Linked DNA regions of Homo sapiens. The protein of the gene in region 1 purifies or fractionates together with the protein of each later gene. This does not show direct contact. Each region holds a gene or a part of one and is shown on either strand. Other genes may lie near its edges. The genes, in order: PROM1 and CDHR1.

Region 1 (3,816 bases):
ACGAGTCCTCTGCCAACCCACATGGCAGCTTGGTGCAAATTGGAAATGGGGCCTTTTCTGCCCAGGGACCTCAGGGCACAGAGCCTGGCAACTCAGTCAATGGCCAGTTTCTGCCCTCGACTAACCCCCTTGGCTGGGCCCCTCATGAAAGGCCTTGCACCACTGCACACCCTCGCCCTGTTCACAGAGGTAGCAAAGCACCTGCACGTAGTCACTGGTGTGTTTCCAGGTTCCCCTGGCATGAGACACACACCTATGAAATGGCAACTGTGATCAGAGGCATAGCGAGGGTCCTGGAGCAGAGTAAATCTAAACATCTTCAAAGGAGCTGAGCCATGATGTTGGTCTCACTGAGAAAAGTGGAAGGAGGAACATTTAGTTTTATCCTGTGGGGCTGATACCCAAAACCTGTCATGTACAGACTATTCCGTTCAATGAAAAAATATCTTCTGAGTTGCCCATTGGTACTGTAGATACAAGATGAATACAACCCAGCCTTGCAGCTCTGTGTCTGCTGAGGGAATGCTTGCAGCCCACACATGGCCCCTGTGGTAGGTAGATTGCATTAGCTGTTCAGGATTATTGATATGCTCCTTGGATGGCTTCCCAGAGCGTGGAGTATACTTCCCCAGCCAGACGACGATGTGTGTGACCATGTGACTTGCTTTGGCCAATGGAACGCTGGTGAAGGGGCAGGGTGCCCATTCTGAGCTTAAAGGACAACCTGTGCCTCCACTCATCCCCTGAACTCCTGTCCTCCACTATGAGGACATGAGGTGCCCCAGACAGGAGCTGCTCCTTCAGGCCGGGTCTCTCAATGGGAAGATGTGTAGAGAAGCCTGCTGTCAAACCAGCAGGGAAAATGAACATTTATACTTAGAAGGCACTGAGGTTTGGGATTGTGTGTTAGGCAGCATTATCTCTGTGAAAGGGACCAATGTACCTTCCAAGCTTGCATCCTACACATCAAAACATAGATTTCACCTATGTATCTAATAGCCTGCTAAGATGAGGTCTGCACTTAGAGAAGTACTTGTAGAAAGGAAATAGTAGGAAAGCCCAATTTGCTATTTAAAATAGGTAGATAACTGAGGCTTTTTTTTTCAACTTAAAGTACCTACAAAAATCCACATTTCTAGCATTCTTTGTGTGGTATTTTATAACAAAACCCCATGACAGAAAACAAAGTAAACCCTTACCAACAATCCATTCCCTGTGCGTTGAAGTATCTTGACGCTTTGGTATAGAGTGCTCTGGCAAGAAACAGATAATATTTCCAAAATTATTACATGAAGCAGCAAGATCACATACCTTGTGTCCTCCCTTCCCACAAGATAGCCATCAAATCTGTCTTTACACTGTAATGGTTTCATTCTAGAAAAAATAACCAACACAATTAACAATGTGTACTTTCTTTTTTTTTTTTTTTTTGAGATGGAGTCTCGCTCTGTCACCCAGGCTGGAGTGCAGTGGCACGATCTCAGCTCACTGCAAGCTCCGCCTCCTGGGTTCACGCCATTCTCCTGCCTCAGCCTCCTGAGTAGCTGGGACTACAGGCGTCCTCCACCACGCCCGGCTAATTTTTTGTATTTTTAGTAGAGACGGGGTTTCACCGTGTTAGCCAAGATGGTCTCGATCTCCTGACCTGGTGATCCACCCGCCTCGGCCTCCCAAAGTGCTGGGATTACAGGTGTGAGCCACCGCGCCTGGCCAACAATGTGTACTTTCTATGCCTCTGGTGTAAGAAAACCTGAAGAAAACATTGGATACATATCCTAAAGCTGTGAAGAACAGCAAATCACATGTGAGGCATCCAAGAAATCCCTTTGAATTAGGTTTGATCAAAGTGGAAGGCATTATTTAAAGCAGAGCCTGCCCCGCAAGAGTGGTTAACCTGAATGGTTTAGACAGGAGGTTGACAAACTTTATCTGTAAAACACCAGAGTAAACACTTTAGGTTTTATCTGCCATAGTCCCAACTACTCAACTTTGTCCTTGTAATCAAAAGCAGCCACAGAGAGTTTGCAAATGAGTGGGTGTGGCCATATTCCAATACAATTTTATTTACAAAAACTGCTGGTAGGCTGAATTTAGCCTGCAGGCTGTAGTTTGCAGGGTCCCTAGTTTGCCAACCCCTGGTTTAGATCATAGGTCTCAGGTAGGAAGCACTCTGCCTATTTGTGGACAGGTTGCCCTAGCTCTGAAAAGGCCAAAGGGTCCTGTGTACTTGGGAAAAAAGCATTTAAAAAAATGCAAAACCAGCTTAAAATGTTAACAAATTTGTGTTAGGCATAAACCAGTTACAGAAAATTGTAAATAGCACTGGACACAAATTAAGAAAATTCAGTGACAGGACTTTGTGAATAATCTAATAAATTAGGAAATCGAGAGAGAAAAAAAGAGTATTGGAAATTAGTTCTGGGAAGTTTAGTGGTTGGGATGTTCGGATGTTTGGATGTTGGGGCTAAGTGGATTTACTTGCTTGTCCAAACCTGAGCAAGCTGATTCAGTAACCCAGTTTCCACACACTTCTCTCCTTGATGGCTACAAATACGGCCCACACACAAGCATAATATAATAATTCCTCCTCTTTACTGAGATCCTCTGAGGTCAGGTCCTTCATTTCCATGAACAGGTAAGAGCAAGGCAGTTATTGATCCCAACATTTTTAGATGAGGAAACTGAGAAGCTACAATAGTTTGGAGAGCCAGAAGCAGAATTTAAAACCAGGTCTGTCTAACTCCAAAGCCCACATTCTTTCTTTGTTAGAAACTGCCTTTATTGCATTAAGAAAAGAAGCCAGAAGGTGGTGAGAAGCAAATGGAAAGGATGGAAGAGAGGAGAGACGAAGCAACGCCCATCGAGACAGCAGACAGGGCTAAGTGGATCTACACAGAGAAGCACTTAACCTCACCTTCACATATTTCTAGACAAAGCTCGGAGAAAAAGAATCAAGTGAGTCCACAGCATTGTAGCTAAATGCGGGGCATAGGAGGGCCTGCTCACAGCAATGGAAACTAGAGCAAGGTGGAAGAGACAGCCACAGATTTTATCTAACTGTTCACACTCAAATGAAAAACGGAAGGGAATAAGCAGCAGAGGGAGGTGCAATTATTTTGTCTAAAGGCCAGCTCAACTTCTGGGGCTGAAGCCAGTCAGCTGGGACCTATGAGAGATGAGCATGTGTCGTGAGGCTAAATGAAAGCCAACTAGCTGCAGTAGATTTTGCTCAGGTCACAGTGAAATACAATACGTCGTTGACTGTTACCAGTGATTGTTCTATAGGAAGGACTCGTTGCTGGTGAATTGTTTTAATAGTTTGTGCATCTCTTTTCAGGGAGTTCCTCAAATTTCCTGGGGGCTACAAAAAGAATAAAAAACAAAGATCAATACCATCTTTCCAGACTCAAAGCACTCTCGCTATCCTCAGGGGCCCTGTGTAGCCAGGAGGGCTGCCATGACATAAGCATGCAATGATGGCTGTGAGTGGGCATGGGGGCTGGTGTGAGGGATAGTGCCAAGACACCCTCCTTCAAAGCACAGAACCATGGACTCTCAGCAATAACCCACACCCAAGAGCCCTTCCTGAGTGCCAGAGACTGTGTTCTCTCCACCTCACCATGATACAGCCACTCTCAGTTTCCCATTTTACAGGTGAGAAAACCAAGGACCCATAGAGAAATTTTTATTTAACCCACACTCAATGAATGTTTAATTTATTAATGAATAACAATCCTATAAGGTAGATACCATTACCCCATTTTACAGATGAGGAAACTAAGGCAGAAGGGAGAAATAACTTGCCTAAGCTCCTAT
Region 2 (3,816 bases), on another chromosome or scaffold:
GACTAGAATCTGGATCCTGACGCCTGCAGCTGAGAGCAGGAGCAGGAAAAGGAGGCTCAGCACTGTCTCAGGCTGGAGGTCAGCGAACCTCGTGGGCTGTAGGAAAGCAAATGTAGGTAAGGGGAGAGCAAGGATGCACAGAAAACACACTGACTGTGGGACTGTGCCAGGATGCATTTGGAAAGATAGAGCATTCTGTCTGGGCAGAGACTGTGGACCCTGGTATGCCCACGTGGGACAGAGGACACAGAGGTGGAAGATTGATCTTGCCAAGAGTGAGGGCAGATGTCTCCAGCCAGGACTGCCCTGAGCCGCAAAATGTCAAAGCTGGAGCTATAGAGGTAGCCCTAAAGGCAACTAGAAGAGCATCAGGGCTGCTCTCTGAGGAGCTGCCCCACCAGCCATCCTTGAAGAGACAATTCAGGGCAGTTGATGAATATCAGGGCTGAGATGTGGTGAGACTTCCGTTTTTATCCAGCTCTTTTGCTCACATCGCGTAACCTTGGGAAAGCTGTTTAAAGTCGCTGATCATCCTCTTCCTCATCTGTAAATGAAGAAAGTAGGCCCTGTCTACCTCACATGCAGGTCTAGGGTGAGGATTGAAGAAAATAGTGGTGATGAGGGCTTTAACCAAGTGCAAAGCGGCATGAATGCAAAGTATTTTTCTGCAGCCCAGTTCTGTGGGTGCAGCTCTTCCAGAAAGTATTAGGAGCCTCACATCTACTCTGCCAAGCGCCCCAGCAGGCACTGTGCTGGGCTTAGGGGCTACCACTGGATGATGGCATTGCCGTGACTCACACACCTCTACTTCTGTTCTTCCCTCACTCCATCCCCGCTACCGTCCTGGCCAGCTACCGTCAGAGAGAACCAGAGCTCCAAGTCTTTAATTTGCCAAGATGAAGAAAATGAGTTCTCAAGGAGGGAATGCTTTGCTTGAGGCCACACAGCAGGTTGGTAGCAAAGATCTTGTCTAGCCAGGGCAGCCCTTATCAGCTTGTGACAACCTTCCCCAGGACAGAAGTCATACAAGGCCTCTGGGGTTAATACAAATAGGTTGTGCCCTGCTTTAAGGAACCTGCTATCAGGAAATCTACATGTGTGCACAGAGAGAGAAAAGTAGAACAGTTCTTTGCATTTGGCTCTACTTACTAACAACCCCTCTAGAATACATTGGTGATTTCATTTAAAGAGATTGTATGCATTTGTGGCTTTCCTGATTTCTGAGTCTGTGTTTGGAGGTGTTACTGAGATGTGCCAGTGTGCAGAATCCTTGCTGGGGTTTCTACAGTCCCCAACGTGAACAGTATTAAGCAAGAGGTGGACTCGAGCAATCCAGGAGCCCAGACTGAGCAAATAAGTACTTTCCAGCCTGTGTTTCAGGAGAGGACTGTGCTGGATCATGCTTGCCCTCCACAGGGAATACAGCATCCTTACAGCTTGCATGCAATCAACCTCTTTTGTAAATGGAAAATAAAGTCTGTTACCCAAAGGCCATGCTGATCCCCTGCTCCCTGCTTTCATTTATGTTTGCTGACCTGTGGAGACCAGTCTTTCTGACACACAGTGAAGCTCAACTTGCCTCCTGGCTGCTTCAGCAGGTGGATCCATTCTTCGACCCCCAGATGTGACTCTAAAGAAGGCTGAAAATTTTTGTCCAAATTGCCATGCAGATATCTTGAACAGCAGGACATTTGCAGGCCTTGTCTACTGGACTTTTCTCCCAAACAGGACAAGCCCAGGCAGGGCTGCATGGAGAGGAATGGAACCTGGAGCTAGAATTAATTGCCCACTCTCCCACCCTACCAGTGCAGCCCGGCAAGGGCAGGAATTGGGAGGCCTAGGGTGGGCATGAAAGCTTGGGAAGCACTGTCGTCTCTCAGACAGGCGTCCTAAAGACCTCTAGGCTGGAAGCTTGGGCTTGCAAGTGGATCCGGGACCGAGGGTGGTCTCTTGGACAACCCCAGGAACTTGGACCAAGGCAGAGCCAATCTTGCAAACTGGCCATGGATGGGGAAGTGCCCGGTAGCCAGCATGAGCCACACTAGGAAAGAGGAGGAGGGTGCAGCCAAACTTAAGGCACCGGCAAGTGTTGTCAGCACTGGAGGAGACCCCGCCAGTGGGGTGAGGCCAGCCAAGTCCCTGTGTTACGAATGGTGGGCCAAGGGGCTGTCTGCTAGGTCCCAGTAGGACAGGCAGAGCTCCAGGCTGGCACCATGGTAGGCCTCCAGGGAAAGAGCTGGGAGGCAGGAATGGCACACTGGGCAGGCTTGCCCATTCCTGGCCCTGAGAATGGAGCTGTAGCCTCATGGACAATAAATGGATGTGACACCAAATACTCTGCAGAGTCATTTTCCTCCTGCGGCTGAGCTCAGATCTTCCAATCACGTGAAATAACAAAGTCCTTTACAGTTTGACAGCCCTAGGTCTGAATTCTGGTTCTGCCATTAATTGTGACTTTGGGCAAGAGGTCAAGTCTCTCTGGGCCTCACTTTCCTCATTAACACAGGGTGCAAAGTATGGTTGCAGAGAGGATGAAAAGATCTAATATATGTAAAGTGCCTAGCACCGGCTTTGTATCTACTTACACAAGCTCAGTAGACACTTGCCGTGACTGTGGCCCACATACTAGAACACCATGTCCTGAAAGAGAGGACCCCCTCCATGCATCCTCACCCCCCAGGATGTTTCCACCCACCTGTAGGTCCAGAAGCTTTTACTTCATGCTAGAAAAAGAGAAGAGAGTGGATCCAGAGGGGAGTGGAGGACAGGGCAGATGCCACAGCATCTGTGGCCTGTGTAGCCGGCAGCCTGCATTTGGGCGTTGACATTCCAGGGGAGTTAGGAACAATGAGAGGTCTCTAAGAACTTGTGGCACTCTGTCCTCAAGCAGCTGTCCCTCAGAATCCTGCTAGAAAAGTGTGATCAGAGCTGGGAAGGAGCCACCATGCTCTGCTTCTCTAAGGATTTCGGTGATTCTATTTTTAGGGACTGAAGGCGTTGAGGGAATCCAAGGCCAGTCCACCTGCCAGGGGTGTTGGCATCTGTTGACAGGCAGTGGCACATCCTGACAGTCTTCAAGGCCTTGGCCACCAAGGGATGGAGAGGGAGAATGGAGAAGATGCCACATGAGGAATGAGGCAGGAGACTGGCATGTGCCACATGGAGGACCCCTTAGGAAACTCACAAACAACCTAGGGAGGGGTTCTCTGAAGGGCCTAGTTTCCAGAATGAGGCGGTCATGGCTTAAGCGACCATCATTTGATCAATAAAGCAGAGTAGCAACAGGCTGATGTTGGGGACATCGGTTTGATGTTATAAAATCGTGCACATGTACCCCTTTTGAGGCCTGAATGAGGTTCGGTTATTTATTCATTTCTCAATAATTTACTCAGCCATTCCTAGGGTGACAAGTTTGGAGTATATCTTCTGTGCCAGGCTCTCTTCTAGGTGTTAGGTGTATGTCTCTAACAAGATAGAAGGAAAGAAGAAAAGAAAAAGAACAACATTCCTCTCTTTAATTGCTAATCGCCTGGGCCTAGGGAGTCTTCATTTTAAAAGCAAGTAGCCCTGCTTACAAATGTCTCCTCAATCAAAGGCATTTGCCTTAAACTTGTATGGTCTAAACTCTAAATAAATAAGCTTCTCAAGGGCATGACAACTATATCGGAAACTGTAGCATCTTTTCAACATGAATTAAACAGAACATGTGAAGGATATTAGCCCAGATATCATGTTATTACATATATATATTTATAAGTATACACACATATGTAGTCTTAATAAGATGTGATATTCCAAATGGCCCTATGTGCTGAG

Evidence for each region.
Region 2: the proteins of PROM1 (region 1) and CDHR1 purify together in Homo sapiens (affinity purification with western blotting; one study listed by BioGRID). This does not show direct contact.

Annotation. Positions count from the first base shown.
Region 1 is NC_000004.12:15,986,464-15,990,279, forward strand, and holds part of PROM1 (prominin-1 isoform 1 precursor), read right to left. Parts: intron 3,362-3,816; coding exon 3,269-3,361; intron 1,254-3,268; coding exon 1,200-1,253; intron 1-1,199. UniProt on the Homo sapiens protein: May play a role in cell differentiation, proliferation and apoptosis. Binds cholesterol in cholesterol-containing plasma membrane microdomains and may play a role in the organization of the apical plasma membrane in epithelial cells.
Region 2 is NC_000010.11:84,215,034-84,218,849, forward strand, and holds the end of CDHR1 (cadherin-related family member 1 isoform 1 precursor), read left to right. Parts: 3' UTR 1-3,661; downstream 3,662-3,816. UniProt on the Homo sapiens protein: Potential calcium-dependent cell-adhesion protein. May be required for the structural integrity of the outer segment (OS) of photoreceptor cells.